3 linked regions of the Homo sapiens genome follow. The protein of the gene in region 2 purifies or fractionates together with the protein of the main gene of each other region. This does not show direct contact. Each region holds a gene or a part of one and is shown on either strand. Other genes may lie near its edges.

Region 1 (7,025 bases), on a different chromosome or scaffold from region 2:
GCGGTATTTCAGGAATATGAGCCAAGCAATGGCCTCTACAGGATAGACTGGGTGTGTGACACTGGCCTCAAGAACACCATTATGGTGTATTTGTGGCAGCTTTTTAATTTTTTAGCATTTTATATAGTGCTATTAATATAATTTGAAGACTTGCTTTAGAAAACAGTGACCAGGTATGCAAGGCATAACTGTTCATCGTAACAATTCTGAACCAGATTAGAATACTTACCGTTCAGAATACTTATTGTTCGGAAATGACAGAAAAGCTAAAAAGTTTCCACATTGCAGGGGAGGGGAGGAAAGAACCAACTAGAAAGCAGGAGGACCTGGGGTGTGAGGCTGGGGAGGTAAGCATAACTCGGCACATCCATTGCAACATTTTCTGCTGATGGGGCAGGCTCATTTATCCTAAGAGAATCACCTCATGAAAACAATGCAGAATGCACTCTGGGCCCAGACCCACAGCTAGAATGTCAGTGCTGATTATTCTCTCCCAGTCCATGTGTTTGTCAGCAACACAAACATTCACATGCTACTTTCGGGAAAATGCAGCCTCCGCAGGAGGGGCTAGAACAGATGCAGAGAGCTAATTTCTCTGTGTCTGGGTGGATGGTTTCATTTGCAATGTCAAAGACAAAAATGGGGATTCTACTAGCCTGCTGAACCTATGCATTGAAAGGAAGCTAAGAGAGCTTTCTTCTCTCACCCCTCCCTTAGATGACCCTTCTCTGGATCACAGTGTGGCTTCTTTACAGGTTGATTCATCTTATAGATTCATCTGTTGAGGGCACATCAGGTACCAGGCACTGTTCGAGGTGGGCTTGGGTTATGAACAGGGAACAAAACAAAGATTCCTGCCCTTGAAGAATTTTCTCCTTGAGGAATTGGGAAGGCAGACCATTGTGTTTTAGAAAGTGACACCTGTTATGGCAAAAAAAAAAAAAAAAAAAAAAAAAAAACCCAGCAGGGTACAGGAATGGGGAATTTCAGTTTCAACACCAAAGGACACTGGGGGAAAAAAGAGCCGGGCACGGTGGCTCACGCCTGTAATCCCAGCACTTTGGGAGGCCGAGGCGGGCAGATCACGAGGGAGGAGTTCAAGACCAGCCTGGCCAACATGGGGAAACTCCATCTCTACTAAAGAATACAAAAATTAGCCAGGTGTGGTGGTGCGTGCCTGTAATCCCAGCTACTCGGGAGGCTAAGGCAGGAGAATTGCTTGAACCCAGGAGGTGGAGGTTGCAGTGAGCCGAGATGGCACCACTGCACTCCAGCCTGGAGGACAGAGCAAGACTCCGTCTCATTAAAAAAAAAAAAAAAAAAAAAAAAAAAAAAAAAAAAAAAGGATAGAGAGTGAGAAAGGAAGGCAGGTAGACATTGAATCTCCTCACCATAGGGATGTTCACCTATGAATTCTGTCACTTCCACACTAGCAAAAAGTGATTAGGGAAACAAAACAATTGTGATGGGGTTTTGTTGTTGTTGTTTTTTTTTTTTTTTTGAGACAGGGTCTCACTCTGTTGCCCAGGCTGGAGTGCAGTGGTGCAAGCACAACTCACTGCAACCTCCACCTCCCAGGTTCAAGCAATTCTCCCACCTCAGCATCCTGAGTCGCTAGGACTACAGGCACATGCCACCATGCCCGGCTAGTTTTTGTATTTTTTGGTAGTGATGGGGTTTGGCCATGTTGTCCAGGCTGGTCTTGAACTCCTGAGCTCAAGTGATCCGCCCGCCTTGGCCTACCAAAGTGCCGGGATTACAGGTGTGAGCCACCGTACGTGGCCTGTGCTAGGTTTTCAGAGTCAAAAGAAAATAAATGACTATTTTCTCCATTCTATTTATTTTCTGAAAGATTAAAGCAAGTGTGGTCTAGATAAGGAAGGTGACAACCTGGGAGGACTGAACTGAAGCAAAGAGACCTCAAAAGTACTTCTCCCCTCCACACCCTTAAGCTAGTTTTTGGTCTGTTGGGCTTAGGGCTAGGATTGCTCCAAGTTCTGACAATGACTCTGGGCTGTTTGTGCACGGAGGCTCCCTCAGGCATAAACTGTTCCAAGAGAGGAGCAAGCTATCACCCCACTGCTACAAGTTAATTGTAAGTTTTCTATCGATTTTTCCCCAGAGAGCCAATCAAAGCAAAATGAACATGAGTTAATGATCTAGCCCTGAAAAAGGAGGGGTGATAGAAAATGATATAGTGCAATGTTAAGTGCCCTCTCCTCCTCAACATGCTCCCCCACCCCAATAAAAAACAGAGACAGAGAAATAACCAACGTTTTAGCAGGGGTTGGTGCTAAAAGGCAGGATTATAGATTCGCTTTTCTATATTTTACAGATGCTCTGTAATAAAGAGGTATAATTTCACAATTAGGAAAAAAAATGGCTAGTCTAAAAAGAAAGAAAAAGAAAGAGAGAGAAGAGCTGGCCATGAGAATTCACTGCCCAACACCCTAGCAGTTAGTGCTGCTAAACAGCTATCTATGGCTCTACTGACGAGCCACCTCAATATTTCTTGAGATATAATTTAGTAAGATTTATGCCTGAAGTAAAGACCGATCCACAGAGTAAGGAAACTATAATTTTACATATCTTATATTTACAATCATGCTGACAACAAAACTTATCATCCTGAGTATGGCTCTTTCTCTCATTTTTCACATCAGCTATTTAAATTCTGACTCGTAATGCCAGGAGGAAAAAGCTGACCTAATGGTGAAATAAACTTGTATTGGAATCTTGAGATGCTTTCCACAAATTATATATGTAGGGTTAATAAATATCTTCTGCTTGAAACAAAGTCAGCATAGGGTTAGGATTTTGGTATACAGCCTTCCTGATGCCATCTTATTTCCTCAAGGACAGATCCTGAAAAAGTACTTGGTAAGGCTTAATACCTATTTATGATGAAAACTCTCAGTAAACTAGGATTGAGGGTAATACCTTAAAACTTGATAAAGGTAACATACAAAACCTAAAACAAACATTATATGAAATAGGAAATCTTTAGACTCACTCTTTTTAAGACTGAGAACAAGACAAAGATGCCCGTTAGTGTAGCAGCTGTTTTGACACAGTTCTAGTAGTCCTGGCCAATGCTGTAAGGAAAGAAAAATGAATAAGAAGTATAAGAATGGGAAAGGGCTGGGCACGGTGGCTCAGGCCTGTAATCCCAGCACTTTGGGAGGCCAAGGCACGTGGATCACAAGGTCACATTGAGACCATCCTGGCTATCATGGTAAAACCCCATCTTTACCAAAAATACAAAAAAATTAGCCAGGCGTGGTGGCACACACCGGTAGCCCCAGCTACTCAGGAGGCTGAGGCAGGAGAATTGCTTGAACCTGGGAGGCGGAGGTTACAGTGAGCAGAGATCGAGCCACTGCACTCCAGCCTGGGCGACAGAGCGAGACTCCATTCCAAAAGAAAAACAAACAAACAAACAAAAAGAACTGATGAAGCATGTATTTAGAGATTAAAGGGACATGATGTCTACAATTAAAGGGGTCAGGGGAAAAAGCACACAAAGAAAACATACTCTTAGCACTCTTCTGTTAGCTTTAAATTATTTCCAAAATTATAAAAATGTCAGAAAAATGAGCTGAATAAACGGAAAGACACATTATATGCTCTTGGATGGAATGAGTTACTATTTCAGTGGCTCACACTTGTAATCCCAGCACACTTTGAGGTGGGAAGACCATTTGAGGCCAGGAGTTACTGGCCAGGGCCCAGCCAGGGCAACAGAGTGAGACCTCATCTCTATTAAAACAACAACAACAACAACAAAAAACTTATAAAAATATTTAGCTGGGTGTGGTGGCTGCAGTGAGCTATCATCGCACCACTGTACTCCAGCCTGGGCAACAGAGGGAGACCCTGTCTTAAAAAGAAAAATAAAAAATAAAAAAGCAACATGGCACATAAAAAATAAATAAATAAATAAAATAAGATGTTAACCCTCCTCAAATAATTTATAAACTCAATAAACTCCAATAAAAATTCCTCAAAAATATAATTTTTTGGCCAGGCACAGTGGCTCATGCCTGTAATCCAAGCACTTTGGGAGGCCAAGGCAGGAAGATTGCTGGAGCCCGGGAGTTCAAGACCGGCCTGGACAACAAAGGGCGTCCCTATCTCTAAAAAAATTACAAAAAAAAAAAAGAAAAATTAGCCAGGGATGGTGGCACATGCCTGTGGTCTCAGCTACTTGGGAGGCTAGAATGGGAGGATCACTTGAGCCTGGGAGGTTGAGGCTGCAGTGAGCCGTGATGGTGCCACTGCACTCCAGCCTGGGTAACAGAGTGACACAAGGTCTCAAAAGAAAAAATATATATATATAAATATATATGTATATATAATGTTTGGGTAGCCTGGTAAACTTATTCCAAATTTTATATGGAAAAAATAAATTTTGGTCCAGGAAGAGCTAAATAAACTTTAAGATGAATGGCTTGCTGTGCCAGTCATTAGGACATACTACAAAGTCACTGTAATAAAATTAGAGCAATTAAAAAAATGAAGTAAGAACTGACAGACTAATGGAACAAAATAAATGCTTAGGGCCAGACAAGTGTATCCATGGAAACCACAAATGAGAAAGAGATACCATAATTTCATAGAGGAAAGCATGGATTTTGTTGACATGTTATTAGAAAAACTGGGTCATTAAATGGAGAAAAATAGGGCTGGATTCCTATCTAACACATGAAAATGCGGGCCCTAGAGAGATGAAAGTCACAGACATGACCTAGGGTTCAGGAAGAGTTCCTTAAACAAAACTCCAAAAACATAAACCGCAAGTCAAAGAATTTATCTATTTGATTACATCAAAATTAAAAATATTTCTTGATCAAAGGATGGCAAAGACAAAACGAGAACTAAATGAGAAGATTTGATCAACAGATGTCAAGATGCCCAAATGAGAAGACATCTGCAAAGTCTAAACATAACAGGGAATAAATACCTATATTATAAAATCATTTCTGCAAGTCAACAGCAACAAAATAGATATCAACTCCAACAGAAAATGCCAAAGACATGAATAAGCAATTTACAGAGGAAGCTATCTGTATAAGAGATACTCAAAATCTCTAGTCATCAAAGAAATATAAATTAAAACGACAAGATATCACTTTGTGCTTACGAGATTGAAAACCATGGATAGCTGGAAAGAGGCGAGTGCTGGTGGGACATGAGGATACAGGAGTCCTCAAATATTAATACTTCCAGAGGCACAGAGACTGGGGCAGCCACTGTGGAGAGGCATCTGGCACTATTTAATCAAATTCAGTCTCTGCAAGCCTATAATCCAGCAATTCCACAGAAATATTATACAGCTTTGTAAGGAGACATGTAGGAAGATGTTCACTGCAGCAATATTTATGGTGTTAGGGGGTAGGAACAACTTGAGTAACCACTCACTACACAGAGAGCAGATAAAGCAAAACCAATGGATGCAAACAGCATGGGGTATAAATGCAGCATTCCAAAGCAGAGAATTAGACACATAACAATATGGATGGATCTTAAAAACACTACTCAGAGACCTGGCATGGTGGTTCATACCTGTAATCCCAGTACTTTGGGAGGCCAAGGCAGGCGGATCACCTGAGGTCAGGAGTTCGAGACCAGCCTGGCCAACATGGTGAAACCCCGTCTCTACTAAAATACAAAAAAATTAGCTGGGCGTGGTGGCGCATGACTGTAATTCCAGCTACTCAAGAGGCTGAGGCAGGAAATGGCTTGAACCCGGGAGGCGGAGGCTGCAGTGAGCCGAGATCTCGCCACTGTACTCCAGCCTGGGCAACAGAGTGAGACTCTTGTCTCAAAAGTCTCCAAAAAAAAAAAAAAAAAAAACCAAACTACATAAAGGAAAATGAATTACAGCATTATAAATCAAGATACATACACATAAAACAAACATTCCCACTTTGCAAGCTCCTACATAAACAAAAGGAAGCACATGCAATGCATTAAGAATGAACACCTGTGAGACATGAGATGAATGGGACAAGGGAATTCTACAACAAAACCAATCTTTTAGATTCCTTGCGTGTTATAAAAGAAAAACTCTTATGACCTACGATAAACACAGAATTGTTTCCTTCCCCAAAGTTCCCAATTTTCCAAACAACAAAAGCTACTCTGGTTGCCAGTTCTGTTGATGAGTAACAGCTTTTCATCCTTTTTCAATCAGGAAGGGAAAATTCAGGGATCAGCAAAGTACAAAAGGGATGAGCAGAGAATATTTACGAAACAGTGTTTTTGTTCTCATGACCTGACAATCTGACTGAAAAAGACCTGATTACCTCTTGATTTGGGATGATTCAGCTACAGGCAGGTTGGTGTCAAGTTTTCAGGTCATCTGAAGCGATTTACTTTCAGAACCTCTTCCCACGCAATCCTCTTGCCTCCCTGTAGAAATAATACCCTGCACTACTTGAAAACTTAAAATTCTTGAGCTAGAGAGGGCCCAGTTATTTTACAGATGAGGAAACGAAGACTCAGGGAAGAATTATGGTGTGAGTCACACAGCTCTAGCTTGAAAAGGTCTCCCTGACTCAGCCCTTGTCCTCTTCCTGTCTATTCTCAACCCAGCAGCCAGTTATCCTTTTAAAACATAAGTCATCATCAACTTCACTGTTCAAAGCTCTCCAACGGCTTCCCCCTCACTCAGTGTAAAGGCCAAAATCCTTACAATGACCTACACTGATGTGTCCTCCCCACTCCCACCCCCTCTCATCTGCTGCCACCTCCCCCCAACCCACATCCACACTGACTGGCCACCATGACCTTGCCACCCCTAACATGCCAAGCATGCTCCTGCACCAGGGTTTGGAACATGCTCATCCCACTGCCTCCTGCTCACTTCCTCATTTCCTTCCAGTCTCCCACCATGAGTTAGGCCAGGTGTGGTGGCCCATGCCTGTAATCCCAGCACTTTGGGAGGCCAAGGTGGGTGGATCGCTTGAGGCCAGGAGTTCCAGACCAGCCTGAGCGACATAGTGAAACCCCGCGTCTACTAA
Region 2 (5,865 bases):
GAGCTGAGATCGTGCCACTACACTCCAGCCTGGGCAACAGAGTGAGACTCCATCTGAAAAAAAAAAAAGAAAAAAAAGAAAGAAAAGAAAATGAAGATATTACTGTGCCAATGATATGAGTCAGTATTTGTAAAGTGGTTAGAACAGTTCCTGGCAGTTTGTGCTTTATAAATGTTAGTTCTAATGGGGAAATGGGGGCACAGAGAGGTTATGTGACCTGCCCCAAAGCCACACAGCTTATGAGCAGGGATTTGCCACCAGGTCAGTCTCTGACTGCCAAGCTGTGCTCTTTCTGTTCCCAGAGCTAGCCTGTACATTGAAGGTAGACAGCAGTGTAGCCTCTGCCCAGTGGAAGCCCCTCAATCCACACGGACCTCATCTGTGGCCTTCCATTTCTTATTCCTTAGAAGTTCCACCTGGTGCCAAGCATCAACACCATGAGTGGCAGTCAGGAGCTGCAGTGGATGGTACAGCCTCATTTCCTGGGGCCCAGCAGTTACCCCAGGCCTCTGACCTACCCTCAGTACAGCCCCCCACAACCCCGGCCAGGAGTCATCCGGGCCCTGGGGCCGCCTCCAGGGGTACGTCGAAGGCCTTGTGAACAGGTAAGGCACAGAGGCATTGCAGTGGTTCCGACCCCGCCCAGGAGTGCTAGGGTGCAGAGAAGCTCCTGCCAGAAAGGAGAGCACAGGCTTAGGAGGGGGTAAGGTAGGCTACAGGTGACTACTGCCCAAGGCTGAAAGTGATAGGAGCCCCACGGGAGGCCCAGAGGGTACAACAGTCACTTCCAGATCAGGGAAAGCTTCCTGGAAAAGGTGGCATATTAGCCTAGAAGGATGGGTAGGACTGGCAGAGGCAGAGAGGAAGGAAAGGACATTCCAGGTAGCGGGGGTGGCAGGAGCAAGGATGGAGGCGGAGGCAAGAACATGTAAGGTGCGCACACGGAATGGTGAGGGGGTCTCCACCTGCTGACATGCATAGAGGGGGCGCTTATGTTGTCTGGGAGAGAACAGGAACAAGAGGGTTCCCTTCAGCTACTCCCTCAGTCTCAGTTTCCCTGTCTCATTTAATCCTCACAAAATCTCTCTGGGGAATGTACTCTGGTTTTCCCCATCTTCCACCAAAGAAATGAAGGCACAGAAGGGTAGTCACTTGCCCAAGATCACACAAGTAGTGAGTAATGACACAGGACTGGCCTTGGCCCCAGGTCTATACAACTCTAAAGTCAGATCCTAACCACCAAACCAGGGCCAGGTGCAGTAGCTCATGCCTGTAATCCCAGCACTTTGAGAGACCTAGGCAGGAGGATCACTTGAGGCCAGGAGTTCAAGACTAGGTTGGGCAACATAGAGAGACCCTGTCTCTACCGAAAAAACAAAATAAAATAAAACCCCCAAAACTAATCACCAAGCCACGCTGTCTCACTGGAAGCTAACAGAAGGCTCAAAGTAGAGGGAACTGACAATTCTTGGCTCCCCAAAGCCCTTACCAAAATAAGTGAGTAAGAGATGGCGAGTCTTTAAAGGAGTGGCTCATCTTTCCTCTCCCTGGGGCATTTTGGTGTGGGAGACTACAGGGGATGAGGTTAAAAAGCTTGGTCGGCAGGTAGAGGATGGGGAGAGAGGTTAGGGCCCTGGGAAAGGTGAGAGATCAGCCAGAGACAGGTTTCCCAGAACAGAATGTCTGGCCTTTGTGGTGAGGAGGGACTGTGGTATGAGCCGCAGAAGCGGGCCAGGGGTAAACCCTCCTGTGCGTCCTTCCTTCAGCCTGGTCCTGAGGGTGACCCTTTGATCCTGGGTTCTCCAGGTAGGGCTGTGAGCTGTGAGTTGGATCCTTTTGGTGAAATGGTCTCTCTCATCTGGCCTGTCACTCAATGTGGAATAGAGTGAGTGAGTTCTATGGGTTCTAAGTCCTGCTCTGGAACCATAAGTAAGTTATCCTCTCTGGGCTTCAGTTTTTCATGGAAAGTTGCGTTAAGAATCTAGTTTAAGGCCAGGCATGGTGGCTCACGCCTGTAATCCCAGCACTTTGGGAGGCCAAGGAAGGTGGATCATGAGGTCAGGAGATCGAGACCATCCTGGCTAACATGATGAAACCGTGTCTCTACTAAAAAATACAAAAAATTAGCTGGGCGTGGTGGAAGGCACCTGTAGTCGCAGCTACTCGGGAGGCTGAGGCAGGAGAATGGCGTGAACCCCGGAGGCGGAGCTTGCAGTGAGCCGAGATGGCACCACTGCACTCCAGCCTGGGCAACAGAGTGAGACTCCGTCTCAAAAAAAAAAAAAAAAAAGAATCTATGTTTTTTTAAAAAAGAGGCCAGCTGTGGTGACTCCCCCTGGTAATCCAAACATTCTAGGAGGCCAGTGCAGGAGGATCCCTTGAGCCCATGAGTTCCAGACCAGCCTGGGCAACACAGTGAGACCCCGTCACTACACAAAAAAAAAAAAGAAAAAAAAAGGCCGAGCACAGTGGCTCATGCCTGTAATCCCAGCACTTTGGGAGGCTGAGGAGGGTGGATCACCTGAGGTTAAGAGTTCAAGACCAGCCTGGCCAACATGGTGAAACCTCGTCTCTACTAAAAATACAAAAATTAGCCAGGTGTGGTGGTACATGCCTGTAATCCCAGCTACTTGGGAGGCTGAGGCACGAGAATCACTTGAACCCAGTAGGTGGAGGTTGCAGTGAGCCAAGATTGGGCCAATGCACTCCAGCCTGGGAAAGAGTGAGACTCTGTCTAAAAAAAATAAAATAAAATAAAATAAAATCTTTGCATGTTCTCAGTGAAAAACAAGAATCTACGTAAAGTACTTGGCTGGCACATAGTAGTTTTCCAATAAATTGCAACTTAATCAGCAGCACTCATTAGCCCCTCCTAGTGCTTACAGCTCATGGAAGAGGAGACTTGGTTGTCCACAGATCCAGAAGGATGAGGGTCCTGCAAAGAGGGTGCTGAGAAGGAAAGGTCACTTCTGGCTGGGGAATAAGACGGCTTCCTGGAGGCAGGAGCATCTTAGTTGAGTCCTGGGAGATGAGGAGGGTTAGGGTTTGCGGAGGGGGAGGGCATTATGGGAGAGGAATGTGCACTAAAGCTAGGTGCGAGGAGGAAATTTTACCAATCAAAGCAGACAGCGCCTCAGTGCAGGGAACTGGTTGGGTGCAGTGATCCCTAAATCACCGGCTGAGGGGGCCCTGCCATGACCTCTGCCAGGGTCCTACCACTGGGCCACCATGAGGGGCGAGTTCCAGGCAGCCAGTAGCCCAGGGTCCTCCTCACTGCGGGTCTCACCCCCAGATCAGCCCGGAGGAAGAGGAGCGCCGCCGAGTAAGGCGCGAGCGGAACAAGCTGGCTGCGGCCAAGTGCAGGAACCGGAGGAAGGAACTGACCGACTTCCTGCAGGCGGTGAGCACCAGCCCTGGTCCACCGAGCTCAGAGGGACCCTGTCTCCCAGAGCCCCCAGAGCCCCAGTATATGTAGCCCCCTCCTCACCATCCTAGCTCCTTGTCTGAGGGGCAGTCCTTCTGGGAAAATGATGAGGAAAAATTGATTAGAAACTGGCTGCAGCATGTCTCACTCACAGCAGAGCTGAAGCTCAGCCAGCAATCTCCTTTTTTTTTTGAGACAGAGTCTCGCTCTGTCACCCAGGCTGGAGTGCAGTGATGAGATCTCGGCTCATGGCTCACTGTGACATCTGTCTCCCAGGCTCCAGCAATTCTTATGCCTCAGCCTGCTGAGTACCTGGGGCTACAGGCGCCTGCCTCCCTACCCGACTAATTTTTGTATTTTTAGTAGAGACGGGGTTTCGCCAAGTTAGCCAGGCTGGTCTCAAACTCCTGGTCTCAAGTGATCCGCCCGCCTCAGCCTCCCAAAGTGCTGGGATTACAGGCCGGAGTCACTGCCTGGTGCCAGCAATCTCCTAAAACGTCTGGGCCTGATGGGAGTTGTGCCCATTTTCTCCCAGGGGCTTATGGGAGTTGTAGTCCAGACTTGCTGGGGACTCTCCACTGCCCCCCCTCTCCCCCCGCCCAACCCCAGCTCCTCAGAACCCTGAGTCCAAACGTCTGCGGCTCTGGGGTATTCAGCCCTCACCTTTCTGACTCCTCTCCTGATCTTCTACAGGAGACTGACAAACTGGAAGATGAGAAATCTGGGCTGCAGCGAGAGATTGAGGAGCTGCAGAAGCAGAAGGAGCGCCTAGAGCTGGTGCTGGAAGCCCACCGACCCATCTGCAAAATCCCGGAAGGAGCCAAGGAGGGGGACACAGGCAGTACCAGTGGCACCAGCAGCCCACCAGCCCCCTGCCGCCCTGTACCTTGTATCTCCCTTTCCCCAGGGCCTGTGCTTGAACCTGAGGCACTGCACACCCCCACACTCATGACCACACCCTCCCTAACTCCTTTCACCCCCAGCCTGGTCTTCACCTACCCCAGCACTCCTGAGCCTTGTGCCTCAGCTCATCGCAAGAGTAGCAGCAGCAGCGGAGACCCATCCTCTGACCCCCTTGGCTCTCCAACCCTCCTCGCTTTGTGAGGCGCCTGAGCCCTACTCCCTGCAGATGCCACCCTAGCCAATGTCTCCTCCCCTTCCCCCACCGGTCCAGCTGGCCTGGACAGTATCCCACATCCAACTCCAGCAACTTCTTCTCCATCCCTCTAATGAGACTGACCATATTGTGCTTCACAGTAGAGCCAGCTTGGGGCCACCAAAGCTGCCCACTGTTTCTCTTGAGCTGGCCTCTCTAGCACAATTTGCACTAAATCAGAGACAAAATATTTCCCATTTGTGCCAGAGGAATCCTGGCAGCCCAGAGACTTTGTAGATCCTTAGAGGTCCTCTGGAGCCCTAACCCCTTCCAGATCACTGCCACACTCTCCATCACCCTCTTCCTGTGATCCACCCAACCCTATCTCCTGACAGAAGGTGCCACTTTACCCACCTAGAACACTAACTCACCAGCCCCACTGCCAGCAGCAGCAGGTGATTGGACCAGGCCATTCTGCCGCCCCCTCCTGAACCGCACAGCTCAGGAGGCGCCCTTGGCTTCTGTGATGAGCTGATCTGCGGATCTCAGCTTTGAGAAGCCTTCAGCTCCAGGGAATCCAAGCCTCCACAGCGAGGGCAGCTGCTATTTATTTTCCTAAAGAGAGTATTTTTATACAAACCTACCAAAATGGAATAAAAGGCTTGAAGCTGTGGCCTGAGTGCCTCACTGGACCCAGAGGCCAATGGGAGAGTATTTGGAGCCCTAGGTCCCAGCCTTAGCTCTACAGACTCACTGCATGACCTTGGACAAATTCTTTGATATTTTTGGACTTTGTCTTATCTGACAAGTGGGGCTACATCCGCTCGGCCTCATCTCCGGGACTGAGGGGAGACAGTCCTCTGGGGTAAAAGCGAAGAGGCTTACCGCCCCTCTCCCCGTGGGGGCCCACAGTGCTGCTGCGTGTGCCACGGAGGGGCGCTGTTATGCCCCCTTCCAGCCTCAGAGGAGGCGGCCGAGTGGTTCTAGGCCCCCAGCACCTGCTTCCTGCCCCATTGTCTTGGACAGGAAGGAGCCGGGAAGGGAGCTGGAGCCACTTCAGGGGCTGGATTAAGGCCGGTCCCGGCGCCCGATGGGGGAAGTCTGGTTTACCACTGCCCCGCATCCCACCCCAGGCTCGAAGTAATGGGGGAATCATTAGTTCTGCAGTCCTTCTGGATGGGAATTGTACCCTGTATCAGCACCCCACCCTCGCCCCAACCCCGGCGAGTACCAAACAGACGCTGCCCAGGCCGTGGGCTCCGCTTCCGTCCGGGTTTATTACCCCCAATCCAACCCCCAGCAAGTCCCTCCGCTCCAGCCTTCAGTCCCCCTGCTGCCCTGCCAG
Region 3 (7,548 bases), on a different chromosome or scaffold from region 2:
GCCAGGCATGGTGGCTTATATCTGTAATCCTAGCACCTTGAGAGGCCAAGGCAGGAGAGCAAAAAAAAAAAAAAAAAAATTAGCCAGGCATGGTGGCATGCACCTGTAGTCCTAGCTACTCAGGATGCTGAGGTGGGAGGATCATTTGAGCCCAGAAGTTGGAGGTTACAGTGAGCTATGATTGCACCACTCTAGCCTAAGTGACAAAGTGAGACCCGTCTCAAAAAAGAAAATAAAAAATATGAGTAAGTTTAACAAGAGAAACACAAGATTTGTACAATGAAAACCACAAAACACAGCTTGGCACAGTGGCTTATGCCTGTAACCCTATCACGTTGGGAGGCCAAGGTGGGAGAACTGCTTGAGACCAAGAGTTTGACACCAGCCTAGGCAACAAAGCGGGACCCTGTCTCTAACTTAAAAAACAAAATAAGTCCAGGTGAGGTGGCTCACACCTGTAATCCCAGCACTTTGGGAGGCCAAGGTGGGTGGATCTAACCCCATTAGAGATGGGGTTTCACCATGTTGCCCAGGAGTTTGAGACCAGCCTGGGCAACATGGTGAAATCCCGTCTCTAAAAAAATTTAAAAATCAAAAAAATACAAAATAAAAAACAAAGTAAACCTACAAAAAATACAGTTGAAAGACATTAAGAAGCTTTAAATAAATGTTAAGACATTCGATGTCCGTGGATTGGAATACGATATTGTTAAGATGGCAATACTCCTTGATCTACAGATTCAAGGGAATTCCTATTAAAATCCTAGATGGCTTTTTTGTGGAAATTGACAAGCTGACCCTAAAATTCATGTGGCAATGTAAGGGACCCAGTATATCCAAAGCAATCTCGAAAAAAGAGAACGAAATTGGAGGATTCATACTTCCTAATTTCAAAACTTACTACAAAGCTAAAATTATCAAGCCTTTTGATACTGGCATAAGGACAGACATATAGAAGAACGAAATAACATTGAAAGTCCAGAAGTAAACCAATATATTTAAGGTCCAATGAGTTTTGGCAAGGGTGCCAAGAGGATTGAATGAGGGAAATAATATCTTTTCCAACAAATGGTGCTGGGACAATTGTGCATGGAAAAGAACGAAATTGGACCTCTACCTCATACCATATACAAAATTATCTCATAATGAATCAAAGACCTAAATGTAGGAGCTAAAAACAACAAAATTCTTAGAAGAAAGCACACGTGTAAATCTTTATGATACTGTATTAGGCAATGGTTTATTAGATATAGATATGACACCAACAGCACAAACAAGATAAATTGGACTTTATCAAAATATAAAACTTTTGAGCTTCAGGCCGGGCGCGGTGGCTCATGCCTGTAATCCCAGCACTTTGGGAGGCCGTGGTGGGCGGATCATGAGGTCAGGAGATCGAGACCATCCTAGCTAACACGGTGAAACCCCGTCTCTACTAAAAATACAAAAAAATTAGCTGGGCGTGGTGGCGTGTGCCTGTAGTCCCAGCTACTCCGGAGGCTGAGGCAGGAGAATGGCATGAACCCGGAAGGTGGAGCTTGCAGTGAGCCGAGATTGCGTTACCGCACTCCAGCCTGGGCAACTCAAAAAAAAAAAAAAAACTTTTGAGCTTCAAAGGACACTATCAGAAAGTGAAAAGACAACTAACCTGCAGAATGAGATAAAATATCTGCAAATCATATATCTGATAAGCATCTAGTATCTAGAATATATAAAGAATTCTTATAACTCAACAATAAAGAGGCCGGGCCTCTTTACATGCCTGTAATCCCAACACTTTGAGGGGCCAAGGTGGGAGGATCACTGGAGTCCAGGAGTTTAAGACCAGCCTGACCTAGTGTCTACAGACATTTTTTTTTTTTTGAGTCACAGTCTCACTCTGTCACCCAGGCTGGAGTGCAATGGCATGATCTCAGCTCACTGCAACCTCCGCCTCCCGGGTTCAAGCAATTCTCCTGCCTCAGCCTCCCAAGTAGCTGGGATTACAGATGCCCACCACCATACCCAGCGAATTTTTGTATTTTTAGTAGAGACAGGATTGCCATGTTGGCCAAGCTGGTCTTGAACTCCTGACCTCGTGGTCCACCTGCCTCAGCCTCCCAAAGTGCTGGGATTACAGGTGTGAGCCACCGCACCCGGCCTGGAAAATTTTAAAAAATCATCTGGACATGGTAGCATGTACCTGTAGTCCTGGCTACTTGGGGTGCTGAGTTGGGAGGATTGCTTGAGTCTGGGAGGTCGAGGATGCAGTCAGCAGTGATCATGCCACTGCACTCCAACCTGGGCAACAAAGGGAGACCCTGCCAAAAAAAAAAAAAAAAAAAGGCCGGGCGCAGTGGCTCATGCCTGTAATCCCAGCTCTTTGGGAGGCCAAGCCGGGCAGATCACAAGGTCAAGAGATTGAGACCATCCTGGCCAACATGGTGAAACCCCGTCTCTACTAAAAATACAAAAATTTGCTGGGTGTGGTGGCGTGCGCCTGTAGTCCCAGCTACTCGGGAGGCTGAGGCAGGGGAATCGCTTGAACCCAGGAGGTGGAGGTTGCAGTGAGCTGAGATCGTGCCACTGCACTCCAGCCTGGTGACAGATCAAGACTCCGTCTCAAAAAACAAAAACAAACAAACAAACAAAAAACATCAATTTAGAATAGTACCTGGAACATAGTAAAATCTATAAATATTAGCTATTGCATGTATACAGCGATAGCCAATTGTTCCACCACGATTTGTAGAATCCTTTTCCCTCTGATTTTATTTTTATTTATTTATTTATTTATTTATTTATTTATTTATTTTGACACGGAGTTTCGCTGTTGTTGCCCAGGCTGGAGTGCAATGGCGGGATCTTGGCTCACTGCAACCTCCGCTTTCCAGGTTCAAGTGATTCTCTTGCCTCGGCCTCCTGAGTAGCTGGGATTTACAGGCGTGAGCCACTGCGCCCGGCCAACATACAAATTTTTCTTATATATTTAAGGTATGTTTCCATCACTGTATTCTTTTAAGTAGGAATTGTTTTAGGGGAGAATAGTTTGGAAGCCAAGACTCCTCTCAACTTTTCTCAATTCACTACATAAGAAAGAAAGATTTTACATCTGTTTCATTTTAGGTATCTAGGGAGAAATCACCCAGATTCTTCCTACCTCTCAGAGGGTGCTGTGAGGATAGATGAGATGCTAGACAGAAAGTTCAGAAAGCTGAGTAACATAAAGCTGCAAAAGGAGAGAACAGAGATTCCATAGATAATATTTTAAGTCAACTACAATTCGTTAAATTTTAAGAAAATTATTTATTTTATTTATTTATCGAGACAGGGTTTCACTCTGTTGTCCAGGCTGGAGTGCAGTGGCCTGATGTGGGCTCACTGCCACCTCAACCTCCTGGGCTCAAGCGATCTTCCCACTTAGCCCCCCGAATAGCTACTACAGGTGCAGGCCACCATGCCCGGCTAATTTTATATTTTTTCGTAGAGCTGAGTTTTCGCCATGTTGCCCAGGCTGGTCTCAAATTCCTGGGCTCAGGCGATCCTCTTGCCTCGGCCTAGCAGTGTTGGGATTACAGACGTGAGCCACTGCACCCAGCCTGTTTTTTGTTTTTCTTTTTTCTTTTCCTGGTTTGTCTTGAACAAGACATATAAATGTAAGACTATAGACTTTGCATTTGATATTTCCCCCGAAATCTTCCCAGGTCATAATTCAACTCCTGGTGTGTTACTTCCTCAAAGAGGTCTTCTCTCAAACACTAGGAGTAAAGCTTCTTCCCCACTCCTAGTCACCTTCTGTCTCACTATCCTGAAGCGCTTTTCACTATTTGAAATATTTGTGTTTATTGGCTTTTTAACTGTCTCCCCTTCCTCACTCAAATATAAATTCTACCTGGGTTGGTAACTCCTTAACCCCATGCTTAGAACAATGCTTTGCACGGGGGGTATAGCTCAGGGATAGAGCATTCGACTGCAGAACAATGCTTTGCATGTAGTATGCCCTACGTTTTGTGAAAATATTTGCTGAATAATATAGTGATTTTAAAAAATCCCCAAGCAGTTTCATGTATCTCATTTGATCATTACAACTATTTGAATAAAATGAGATTGTTAGTCCCATTGTACAGAGACTCAGAGAAGGTTTTCACCCAAGGCAATAGGGCTAGTAAAATGGTAGTGTTAGAATTGCTGTGCGGGTGGATTGCTTTGTCCGTACATGGACTTCATTTCTAGCGCTAAGGGTATTTTAAATTACTTTGCCGTTAAGGAAGCGATGACTCTGAAAGATAGTAGTAACCACCACTACAGGCACCTGTAAAGATCCTCTCTCCTTTTTCCTTTCTTTCTCCCGCTAGATTCTGCAGCCGAACACGTGTGACCTGTGTGGACAGTACTCGCTCAGTCTCCCTCCCCAGCCCTGCCCACAGTAAGCCCGGCCCCTTCTTTTCCCGGAGCCCCCGCCTCTCGGCCGCTTTCCAACTCAGCCCCCACGGATCTCGCCCTTCCCCCGCGGACCCATGACTTCTCGCGAGAGTTGAGCGCGCCTGGCCGGACGGGAGGAAAGTATCCGTTCCGCCAAGGGGGGAAAGGAGGAGCTGGAGACAGATTGTAGGACCGAGCGCGGGCAGGCGGGAGGCAACGGAGCTACCAGCCGGTAAGTCCTTTTAACATTAGCTAGTCCATGATCTGACGGGAGTCTCCCTTTCAACTCTGGCCAGTCCCAGCGTTCCAGGCTGGGGTCTCCCCTCCCAGTCTGTGTTGGACGGGGGCGCTGAGGCGGTGGCCGGGCCCTGTCTGAGGAAGAGGGTGGGGCATAGGCCAAAGCCGACCAATGGGAGAGAAGGAAGCCTCGATTGGCGGCGATGAGCGCTAATGGGAGATCGCTTTTACGTTGCCGAGCGCCGCCCTTCTCTCCCTACTCCCGCCTCCTTCCTTTGGGGGGAAGGCGGGGCCAGAGGCTTGAAGTGTGGGGAGAACTTGGTGTAAGTAGCCCCGGGGGGCACAGGGCGTGGCAAGGAGAGGGGAATTGAATCCTGAGGGAAGGGTAGTCTAGTGGAGCCTAATGGAAGGATCATGGGATGGGGTGGAATGGGAGAAAGAGGAGGGATACTAAACTAAGTTAGAAACCCAGGGCTTCCCAAAGAGTGGGATTAGGAGCTTGGAATTGGAAAAGGGTAATAGGAAGGAGGTAGGAATGAGTAGATGAGAACAAAGATCTTGATCTGGTGACACAACACCCCGTTGGGTTTGGCAGAAAAGATAGATGGGGTGGATTATTGGAAATGAGGGTCATGGCATTTTGATTGAATTAATTAAAAGAACATCAGGGACATGATATCAGAGAGAAAGTATGGATTTGGAGAAAATTAAGTGAATTAATTTAAGAGGACAGTATGGGTGAGCTGAGTCGCCATAAGGCATGGCTTCTGGAAGGATATGAGCCTTGAGAGCGATAAGAGGTGTTTGGGAAGGAGATGGCTGATATACACATGTCTTTAGCCTAGGTATCAGGTGGTTGGGATATTGATTTAGGGCTTCTGGTGGATATGGCACCCAGACTGGTGACCAGCCTCCAAGATGCTGGGATGGGGGTTGAGAAGGAGAAAAATAGAACGCTTTCATCGCTTCTCTGATTTTCCTTCTCCCTCTCTTCTATTACCCAAACTCTTCCCAGACACCAGGATGTGGTCTTGGGACTTAAGCAGTCCAAGTTGGAGCCCCATAGGGACTTAATATGTTGCTCTGAATTGCTTGTTATGTTCTCTGACTGGGGTGTTTACAACCCAGGGCACCTCCTACCCAGATTCCCGCGTTGCTACTTTCCTAACTTTAAAAGTTTGTTTTCTGCTTAACAGAGGGTGTTTTAGTATCTCTGAGGGTCATGTCATATTAAGTACAGGTGTGTAGGGGGTGTGCAGAGTTTTCTCAGCAAGCTCACATGAGTCCTGTGTTTAAAAATTTTGCAGTAGTGTAATTCTTGTAGCGATATCAGTCTTTATGGGCATTCTAAGCAGAAATATACTAAAATGAAGTTTGTTTTGTTAAATGTGGCTTCCCCAGTCATTCTCGAAGAGTTGTCGAATGGGTGGTTGCAGTTTGTTTTAGTTAACTTACATAATGTGTTTTTAAATAGTGTAAATAAAATAGACATGTTATTTCAGGAAAGTGAAAAATGTTCAGTTTTTTCCTTTGTGTCCAGACTCAGAAACTAAAGCTATGTCATAATATCTTAGGCCAAGGGCTGGGGAAATCAAACACAATTTGTACTTACACATGGAAGTTGTAAGGTAAGTGGAGGCTCTTGCGAAATGTAACATGTCTGTAAGAAAAGAAGCTAAAGAAAAGTTTGCAAGCTCTGCTAAGTAGTCTTACCAGTTCTTAATTCTGTACAGAAAAGGGACAGGGCTTTGCCCTTTGTTTGATAGTTGTGTATCATTTAATAACGAATTGGACTAATATAGCCAATTAATAACTTCTTTGCTCTTGCGTAGATTTTGCTTTTACATTCCTTCTCTTCTCCTTTTACTTTTGAGAAGGGAAATAATGTCTGAAATATCAGTAAAGCTATTACATGAAGAGAAACCAGAGTACGTAGTTGTATTAACCTTTGGTTTTCTGCAATCAGCTGAAGCCTTTCTCCCTGGCCAAGAAGTTGCCCCTATAGCACATTGAGACCAATTCATTGCTGACCCGTTAGCATTAACTACTGAGCTGGGTTCTAGTATTTCACAGTAAGTGCATTGCTATTGGACATTCAGAACATTTCCAGTTTGCCTGGCAGCAGTACAGAAAATTACCCAGTGAGAGAGCAGAGTCCCTTGTTTTGGTCTTCTGCCCTAGAATTGGTGATTGCTTTGACTAGGGCACTATTAAACCCAAGATTTTTTTTTTCTCACTAGTGCTACCATCTAGCAGAAAGCTAGAGTGATAACACTGCTCATCTTTCAACTTGTGGATCAAAGTTTACACCCTGTGGTAGTTTCAGTGTTGTAATTTTTAAACACGTTTGTTTACCACGGTTTTAAAATGTTAATAGCTCTACTTACTGTATCTTGTTCTCTTTCCTTTCCTCATTTCCAACCCAAAATGAAAATTGTTTTTTCAACCAACTCTTAAACTACTTCTTTGCCTGGAGTAAAGTCACTGGCTCTGTCTGAACACAGCTGCTCTGAAGTTCTCAGAAGTTATTGTTTTGTGCATGTCAAGACCGAGTTTTTCCTAGGCTACAGTGGGAGGGAGTTAGTGTTACAGCAGCCTCCTATCCACGTCTGATAAGGAGGAGCCTTCTCCTTGCAAGGAAGTTTTAGGTGGAACAGATAGAACTCCACGTAAATGTCTAATAAAGCTAGCTCTTTTCTTGAGACTAGTTAGCATACTGGTATATAATTGTCCCTTATCCCTTAATAAAAGTACTAAAGTTAAGGTACAGGTGTTTCTTTGAGAAAAACAAATGCAGCATTCATTTAAAAGGAAAAAGCATTCATTTCTTTTGTTGTTGGTTTCTCAGAAAATGGTCCTACGATTTTGGAGTTCATGAAAAAGTCTTCTGTCTCTTTAAAAATATGTCAA

The links. The genes of interacting proteins can lie anywhere in the genome.
Region 1: the proteins of FOSL1 (region 2) and DNMBP purify together in Homo sapiens (co-immunoprecipitation; 2 studies listed by BioGRID and IntAct, with this or other methods). This does not show direct contact.
Region 3: the proteins of FOSL1 (region 2) and ATF7 purify together in Homo sapiens (co-immunoprecipitation; 2 studies listed by BioGRID and IntAct, with this or other methods). This does not show direct contact.

What each region holds. Positions count from the first base shown.
Region 1 is NC_000010.11:99,999,929-100,006,953, forward strand, and holds part of DNMBP (dynamin-binding protein), read right to left. Parts: exon of another isoform or gene 6,309-7,025; intron 3,096-6,308; exon of another isoform or gene 3,014-3,095; intron 1-3,013. UniProt on the Homo sapiens protein: Plays a critical role as a guanine nucleotide exchange factor (GEF) for CDC42 in several intracellular processes associated with the actin and microtubule cytoskeleton.
Region 2 is NC_000011.10:65,891,549-65,897,413, reverse strand, and holds the end of FOSL1 (fos-related antigen 1), read left to right. Parts: intron 1-407; coding exon 408-605; intron 606-3,292; coding exon 3,293-3,400; intron 3,401-4,117; coding exon 4,118-4,528; 3' UTR 4,529-5,365; downstream 5,366-5,865.
Region 3 is NC_000012.12:53,623,364-53,630,911, reverse strand, and holds the start of ATF7 (cyclic AMP-dependent transcription factor ATF-7), read left to right. Parts: upstream 1-4,529; 5' UTR 4,530-4,633; intron 4,634-4,915; exon of another isoform or gene 4,916-6,266; intron 6,267-7,548. UniProt on the Homo sapiens protein: Stress-responsive chromatin regulator that plays a role in various biological processes including innate immunological memory, adipocyte differentiation or telomerase regulation.